Regions from separate parts of the Homo sapiens genome. Here region 2 is linked to region 1. Evidence: fine-mapped expression QTL. A gene starts in region 1. The other region holds a variant in brackets. All regions are shown on one strand. Distances are between the middles of the regions.

Evidence for each region. PIP is the estimated chance that this variant, and not a neighbour inherited with it, causes the effect.
Region 2: its variant is the best candidate, but not a certain one, in a credible set for the expression of ARHGEF25 in unexposed skin (GTEx, PIP 0.50).

Annotation. Positions count from the first base shown.
Region 1 is chr12:57,608,706-57,613,087 of GRCh38, forward strand. ARHGEF25 (Rho guanine nucleotide exchange factor 25) reads left to right here and starts at 2,730. Exons shown (of 15, transcript NM_182947.4): 1 at 2,730-3,286; 2 at 4,225-4,382. The coding sequence starts at 3,190. It overlaps DTX3 (deltex E3 ubiquitin ligase 3), which reads left to right. Exons shown (of 7, transcript NM_178502.4): 6 at 1-32; 7 at 372-1,097. The coding sequence ends at 447. RefSeq lists a silencer at 2,623-3,142.
Region 2 is chr12:57,698,703-57,703,084 of GRCh38, forward strand. The region is part of intron 5 of OS9 (OS9 endoplasmic reticulum lectin); the gene reads left to right. Among named protein-coding and RNA genes, the nearest start is that of OS9, 6.8 kb to the left of the region's middle. The variant G/A (reference allele first, on the strand shown) is at 1,789.

The DNA.
Region 1 (4,382 bases):
CACAAGACCAGCTGCACAGGGGGACCCCAGCTGTGCGACCCCTCTTCATTTCCTTTCCCTTGGCTCCTCCCCTTTGTTCCATTTCCACTGAGGGACCCACCAACCCCTCGCTCACGGAGCCTCCTAACTGGAGAGAACCACTTCCAAACTGTTCAGCCATCTCAGTTTCTCCTACATTCAACCTGGTCCTGGTGTGCCCAGCTTAGCCTACAAAAATAAGCAGAACTGGGCTAAATTATCTTGGATTTGGAGGTGTCCTCCCTTAGGGGAGGTGGGGAGGTGTCTGAGCCACCTAGAATGAGGGTGAGCATGGGGATAATAGCAAGTTCAAACAGCTAACAACCCTCACCCTCATTTCTCTTTGCTCCCAGGTTTGGGTACCCAGACCCCACCTACCTGACCCGGGTGCAAGAGGAGCTGAGAGCGAAGGGTATCACAGATGACTGAAGGACATCGCCTTTGCCAAGGCCCCTGCTGTCTGCCTCTACTAGGACCCAGCAGAAGCCTCTTTCTCCTCTCTGCCCCCTGCCCCCCACACCACACCTGTAGGGGACCTGTCTGACTGGGAAGGGAGTTCCGAGAGGGAGGGGGCAATCCCTTCCCCCATCCCCCACTGGCCAAGTGTTTCAATGCAGTGTGAGCCACTCCCTTCTGGCAGAGGCCGACCTCCAAGGCTCTGTTCTCCCCTCCCCGTGTACATATACTCCCGGTTTCCCTGCCCCTCCATTGCCCTTGGCTTTTTCTGGTATGTGCTGTGCTCCACGACCAAGCCGAGAAAGGACCTAGGGTGGGGAAGGGAGGGTCTCTTGATTCCTAACCGCCCCCACATACTGCTCCACCGCTGAACTTCGGGTGCCGGGGAGGAGAAATTGGGCTGATGTGAGCTCCCCGTCACCCGCCATGGAGCCGGCTGTGTGTGTTCATCAGATACAGTTCTCCCTTAACCTTGTCCTTTCTCTCCTGTGTCTCAGTCTCCGTCAGTCTGTCTTTCTCCGCTCTTCTCTGACCCCTGTGAGGAACCTCCTTACCCTGTTCTGGAATCGCTGCCAGACTGTAGCTTTTAATTTAATAAAAATAAAGTAAAATATGCAACTCTTTATGCCACACCCGTTCTTTTCCAGGGACTGGGTGGGGGTGGGGTGGGGAGAGGGACCTGCTGGAAAGGGGAGAGGGGATGATGGGGTGATCCCTGCGTGCACTCCCAGTCCCTCTGCCTCCTGAGGACCTGGGGAAACGGGATGCACCAGCGGGCTCTGTAGTAACACTGAGAAACCCTGGGTCACTTCGATGTTGGAATTAGTATTAAGAGGGTGTTTTTTTGTTGTTCAACTATGGTTGTAGAGAAAACAACCCTAGCCACTCTGCGAAGTTTGGCTGGGGTGGGAGTGGGGGCGGAGCCGGGCAGGGGGCGGATTCCGCAGCAGCAACTCCCCGGACGCGCGCAGGCCTCAAAGCCCCCCAGCTTCAGTGCCCCCTCGACCCTGAAACTTGGAGCAGGGTGGGGGTTCAGTATGAAGCCCCCGGACCGCCCCGCCCCTGGCCGCACTGACCGGATACTGGGGGTCATGGGGGGCATGCTGCGCGCATGCGCCCTCCCTGGGCAGGAGGGGGTAAGAATGGGGGCTCGCGGTGGGGTCGGGGGTCTTTCGGGGCCTTCAGGAGGGCTGCACCCACAACTCAACTTATCCGAAAACGAGTTCTGCGGGGCAGTCGCAGGAATACATGAATTCTATTACGAGGGCCATAGCCCCGTTCTGGGCGAGCCTTTTATAACAATGTGGGTTTTGACAGGTAGGAGAAGGGGAAGGGGGAGGTCAGGGCTGCCTAGGAGGGCAGGTTCCTTACAGTGGTTCTGTCCCCGCAGCCCCCAAGGAGAAGCCCTCTAGGGTTGGTGGGTACCGAGCCAGAGTCTGAACGTACGGAGGGAGATCACAGAAGGGATCGCGAACATGAGGTCCTCGCCGGGGCTCTGCAGCCCGGTAAGAAGCTGGGGGTGGGGTGGGGCACAGTTTGCTATCCTGCGCCAAGTGGCGAATTCAAAAATATTCTATTCTTATTAGCATAAAGTTCGCATCTAATTTGCATGAGACCCATTTAATCGCAGAGACCTCCACTCTTCTTGCCTTCGAGTCCAATGTGTGTCCCCCATCCCAGTCGATCCCGAGCCCTCGCAGGCAGAGTGTCCCCGCGCCCCACCCCTGGCCCCTCGCCAGCCCGGGCTCCAGGACTTCGCCTTAATTGGCGATTAGTCTTAGCTGGAGTCCCGGGGCCTGGAGGAAAGAAGGGTCCTGAGAGAGGGCGGCATCTGGGTTGTGTTCACCCACAAAAGACTCCCCATACACGCACCCCGTACCAGGGGGCCTCTGTCCACTCGGCCGGGGACAGCCCCAAACCCAGAACATCTTCGCACAGGCCAAGGCCCCATCCACTGAGTCCTCCTTCATCGCAGAGGCCAAGGGGAGACCTGGGCAGACCCTGCAGACAGGCTGAACCCCGACCCCAGCGCTCCGCAGAGCCCGGGATGCGAGAGGGAGGGGGACCCCGGGGCAGGGGAGCACGGGCTGGGGAGGGGAAAAAGCGCTGGGGACGTGGAGTGGGAACGTGGTGGTGTCTGGGGGAGGGGCGATCGGGGCGGGAACCCGGCGCAGGCAGGAGGGGGAACGCGATGGAGAGGGCGGAGCTGGGCCGCAGAGGCCCCGCCTCGTGGCGGCCCCGCGGCCAGGCCTGTTATTCAGCTCTCCGCTCCGCTGGGACCCGCACAGCGCCAGTGGCTCGGGGGTCGGCCCTCGCCTCCTCCCCGGCCCGGGCCTAGAGCCACCCCTAACCAGAGGCCGGAGACAGCTGGAGCGGCTGCCGCATCCCGGCCCAGCCTCCCCTACCATCCCTCCCCCTTCCACTGGACATCTGGACCCTAGGCCCCCGCACCGACAGGGTTCCGGAAACCCTCCCCGCCCAGCCCGGCGGCCGGGCCCCGCGCCTCTCTCTCTCTAGAGCCCCCAGCCCTCCTCAAGACTAGACTTCCGCCTACCCCTGGACACCTCCTCCCGGTCCCCTCCCTCCCCCCCTCCCACAGCCTGGACCGGGGTAGGAGGGAGGGGGGGTGTGCGCCCGGCGCCGTCCCCGCCCCGCCCCCCGTGATTCCCCCTGCATGGCCGGCCCGGGTGGGGGGCGCGGGGGGGCCCGGGCGCCATGCGGGGGGGGCACAAAGGGGGTCGCTGTGCCTGTCCCCGTGTGATCCGAAAAGTGCTGGCAAAATGCGGCTGCTGCTTCGCCCGGGGGGGACGTGGTGAGTGCCAGGTCGAGAGGGTCCAGTGTTGAGTGGGGGGCGGGCTGGGGGTTCAGGGCATCTGTTTGCCCTGGCCCTTGGGATTTAGGGTTGGAGACTGTATGTGTTTTCCAGGAAAGTGGTTTCTTAAGTGATCCCTAAGGTCCCTTCTGCCTCCAAATTTCTGTTAGTTCAAGTTAAGGAAATAGGGGAAGGGGCAGGGAACTCATCTCTTTCCCTTTGTCAAATGGGTTTGAGAAAAACCCACCCACAATCCCCTTAGGCCTAGAACCGATTATTTTCCTCAAACCTTTTGCTAAGAATCTACTTCTGAAGAGGGACAGGAGAATGGAGGAATGAGAATGAGGTGGTTCTACAAGGGGCTTTATAAGGAATCACAGCTCTCTGTCGCTGAGCACAGGCCAACGATAACCCTGATGGACCCTCCTCACTGGCCTCCTCTATTGGGTCTACGCATGTGTTGGGGAGGTGGGCTGCAGAAGTCTTTTCTTTTTATAGTGATTACTGCAATTGGTGGAGGAGGGGACTGGGAGTGGCAGATGGACCCAGCTCATCCTCCCCTCTTCCCAGAGAATGGTCTGTACCCATTGAAAGAGGGAGGGTTGTAGGAGAGCAGATGGCCACCCCCAGCTTCCAATGTCTGCCCAGATGGCTGCCCCCACCCCCATATCTATGCTATGCTCAGGATATGGGGAACCTCCACATGTAACTGGGGGTTCCAGGCCTGGAGAGCCAGGCGTTTACCTTACTGTGCTTTCTCCCAGGGGTGCCCTGGTGAAATTTTCTATCCTGGCCAACTCAAATGAGGATGGCAAGAGAGTGAGCCCTTGGAGAGAGAGGCTGAGCATCATGAAGAGAAGACCCTGGGAGTTCCCTGGGGACCCTGAGTCTGGAGCTGGGGCAAGGTCTATCACCTCCTCTCTTTTTCCTCCCATTAGAATCCTATTCCATTGCGGGCAGTGAGGGGAGTATATCGGCTTCTGCTGCCTCCGGTCTGGCTGCCCCCTCTGGCCCCAGCTCTGGCCTCAGCTCTGGCCCCTGTTCCCCAGGCCCCCCAGGGCCCGTCAGTGGCCTGAGGAGATGGTTGGATCATTCC
Region 2 (4,382 bases), 90 kb after region 1:
CCTGGAGACAAGAGGCAATGGCCTATCCCAGGAACTGACAGATACTCACAGGGACTGAGGGGATAATCATGGGAAGAGGAGTGTAGGAGATGAGTCTGGGTGGTTGGTAGGGGACAGGTCATGAAGGGCTCTGTAGCTATGATGAGGAATTTAGACAATCCAAGAGACAATGGTTAGGGGAGGCAATGAGGTATTTGAAGCAGAATGATGACATATTCAGGTTTGGAATTGAAGGCCCACTCTAGCTGGAGTATAGCAAAGATTGAGAGCTCACTTAGGCAGCTGTGGTAATCCAGGTGTGAAATAAAAGTGGCCTGGGGATGAAGAAATGTGAATATTTAGAGACAGATTTAGGGGGTAAAATCAACAGAGTAAGAAGGAGTCAAGAATGATTTCCAGGCTTTTGGCTTGTGCAGTTAGATAGAGGGTGATTCGTGTTCCTGAGATAGGTATAATGAGAAGAGGAGTAGGTATGGTGAAGGAAAATGGTGAGTTTGGCTTTGAATATGATTTTAGTGGCTGCTAGGCATTCAAGTAGAGATTTCCAAGGGGGCTGTGGATCTCTGGGTCTGGAGTTCAGCAGAGAGATCTGAATTGAACCCAGAGGTGGGGAGTTGTCCTTGTATCAGCCATAACTGAAGCCAAGGTATGGATGAAATCCCCCAAAGAAAACAGTATCTAATGAGAAAAGTGGGATGGAACTTCAAGGAAGCCATCACTAAGAGCATGGGAAGAAGAGGGTTTTGCCAGAAGAAAGGGCCAGAGAGGAGGCTATGGTGACATGGAAACGAGGAAGGACACATTTGAAGGGGAAATTGGTCCATGGTGTTGGCTGTGCCTGAACCTTCAAGGAAGAGGAGGATTAAAAACTGCTTATAGGCAATCATAGTCATTATTATTTTAATAAAGGCAAAACATGTACATGGAAATAAAAAATTCAGACAGTAGAGAAGAGAGCCAGATGGAAAGTATAAATTCTCTACTTCCAGGCACCCCTGACCAGTCCTTTGGTTGGACTTAATGATAGAGATCATTGGTGATCTTTGCTGGGGCAATTTGAGCAGAGTTGTGAAGATGAGGTGTTGAGAAAAGTGGTGAAAAAGTGGAACTCTGCTGGGCGCGGTGGCTCATGCCTATAATCCCAGCACTTTGGGAGGCCAAGGCAGGCAAATCACTTGAGGTCAGGAGTTCAAGAACAGCCTGGCCAATATGGTGAAACCCCATGTCTACTAAAAATACAAAATTAGCCGGGTGTGGTGGTGGGCGCCTGTAATCCCAGCTACTCGGGAGGCTGAGGCAGGAGAATTGCTTGAACCCGGGAGGCGGAGGTCGCAGTGAGCTGATATCGCACCATTGCACTCCAGCCTGGGTGACAGAGTGAGACTGTCTCAAAAAAGAAAAAAAAGAAAAGAAAAAAAGAAAAAGAAACTGGAAATCTTTGAAGAAGTTTGGATATGAAAGGGAGATAAAAGGTAAGCATTAGTGAGAGGTGCTGGGGGGTTGAGAGAGGGGGCATTCTGTGGTTGGTGTGTGTTTTAAGATGGAACAGACTAGAACATGTTGAAGACTTGGGTGAATGTTAGTGGAGAGGAGGAGAGGGAAGTCAAGGTACAGTAGAGAGAATGTGAAAAGAATGTGGACAGGGATGGGATGCAGAACCCTGGGAGAGCAATTTGCCTCAAAAGGAAGGTCTAGGGTCGTAACTGGAATGGTGTATTTGCTAGTGAGTCTGGAGGTTTTGGTGGCAGAAAGTTGAGGCCATTCCTGTCTGGTTGCTTCTAGTTTTCA[G/A]TTCTTATGCCACTTGCCTAGGTGATCAGGTAAAGCCCCTACTCCAGGGCAGGCACTGTGATGTGTTGCTGGCCTGATGCCTCCTCAATAGGAACAGCGTGCATGTTGTTTAAAGTGCAGTCTCTGTGGGGCTAGGGAACAACTGGTTAGCTATATGGAATTAAATAAATTCCTATTTATTGGTGTGTGTTTTAAGATGCAACAGACTAGAACATGTTGAAGGCTGTTGGGTGGATGTTAGCGGAAAGGAGGAGAGGGAGATCAAGGTACAGTAGAAAAAGTGAGAAAAAAATGCGGACAGGGCTGGGATGCAGAACCCTGGGAGAGCAATTTGCCTCTAAAGGAAGGTCTAGGGTAGTAGACCAACTCAATTCTTATAAAGTAAGATTCTAGAGATATCAAAGATTTTTTTAAGTTATAAAACATACAATTATACAAAAAAAAATGTCATAGAGACCCATAAATTCACTGCCAAGTTAAACAGATGTTAATGTTTTGCCTGATTTGTTTCAGATCTCTGGTTTAAAAAAAGGAATAAAATGCTTGTGCTAATAGCTAAAGCCCACCTTCATATTTAGTCACTCTCCCTCCCGCCAGAAACAACCACAACCCTCACTATGTTTGTTTTGTATTTTTATTACTGATATATATATTACAGACAATAGATAGTGTTTTGTGTTTTAAAATTATACATCAGGAGTATCAACTTGTTTTTTTCACTGATCAGTGTGTTTGCCATTCAATGGCATGACATGGAACTCTGGTTGAGTGATTTTTTTTTTTTTTTTTTTTTTTTTTTTTTTGAGACAGAGTCTCGCTCTGTCACCCAGGCTGGAATACAGTAGTGCAATCTAGGCTCACTGCAACCTCGGCCTCCTGGGTTCAAGCGATTCTGCTGCCTCAGCCTCCTGAGTAGCTGGGACTATAGGTGCCCACCACCACGCCCAGTTAATTTTTATATTTTTAGTAGGGAAGGGGTTTCACCATGTTGGCCAGGCTGGTCTTGAACTCCTGACCTCAAGTGATCCACCCACCTTGGCCTCCCAAAGTGCTGGGATTACAGGTGTGAGCCACCGTGCCTGGCCTGGTTGAGTGATTTTAATGTCTGTATTGTGTTTCATTGCTTACTTACCCATTCCTCTGTTGATAAACAGTTGGGTTTCAACTCTAATGCCCTTATACACAGTGCTGCAATGTAGGTCTTATTGTGAGTGTACAAGAATTTCTCCAGGGAAATACCTAGAAAGTAGAATCACTGGGTTACAGGAGTGTATGTTATTGGTGAATTCAATTTTTTGTTTGTTTTGTTTTGTTTTGTTTTTTGAGATAGAGTTTCACTCTTGTTGCCCAGGCTGGAGTGCAATGGCGTGATCTTGGCTCACTGCAACCTCCGCCTCCCAGGATCAAGCGATTGTCCTGCCTCAGCCTCCTGAGTAGCTGGGACTACAGGCGCCTGCCACCATGCCCAGCTAATTTTTGTATTTTTAGTGGAGACGGGGTTTCACCATGTTGGCCAGGCTGGTCTTGAACTCCTTACATTGTGATCCGTCCACCTTGGCCTCCCAAAGTGCTGGGATTACAGGTGTGAGCCACCATGCCTGGCCCTCAATTTTTTTAATGATTGAAAAAATATATAACCTAAAAGTTATCATTCTAACAGTCTTTAAGTGTACAATTCAGTGGAAACATTCAGTGTTCTATCACCATCACTACTATTTCCAAAACTTTTTTCATCATCCCAAACAAAAATAACTCCTATTTCTCCCTCTCCCAGACTCTGTTCTACTTTCTGTCTGTATGAGTTTCCTGTTCTAGGTACTTCACATGAGTGAAATCATACAAGATTTGTCCTTTTGTGTCTGGCTTATTTCACTTAGCATGGTGTTTTCAAGGTTCATCCATGTTGTAGCATATATCAGAATTTTATTTCTTTTTATGGCTTAATCATGTTCCATTGTCTGTATATACATTTTGTTTACCTATTTATCAATGGATGGACAAATAGGTTTTCATCTTTTGGTTACTGTGAATAATGCTGCGATGAACATTGGTGTACAAGTATCTGTTTGAGTCCTGTTTTCAATTCTTTTGGGTCTGTACCTAGGAGTAGAATGTGCCTTATGGTAATTCTAGGTTTAGTTTTTTGAGGAACTGCCAAACTGTTTTCCATAGCAGTTGCATCATTTTACATTCCTAGTAGCAGTGCACAGGGTTCCAGTTTCTCCACACTACCTCCATCACTTATTTTCCTTTGTTTTCTTTTTCTTTTTTTTCAGTAATAGCCATCTTAATGGGTGTGAAGTAGTATCTCATAGTGGTTTTTGATTTGCATTTACCTAGTGATTAATGATGTTGAACATCTTTTCATATGCTTGGTGACCATTTGTATATCTTTTTTGGAGAAATGTCTATTCAAATCCTCTGCCCATTTTTGAATTGAGTTGGTTTTTGTTGGTGAGTTGTGAGAGTTCTTTATGTAATAAATTCTGAATATTAATCCCTTATCAGATCTATGATTTGTAAGTATTTTCTCCCATCCTGTGGTTGCCTTTTTACTATCTTTTGTTTTGCTTTGTTTTTTGGAGACAGAGTTT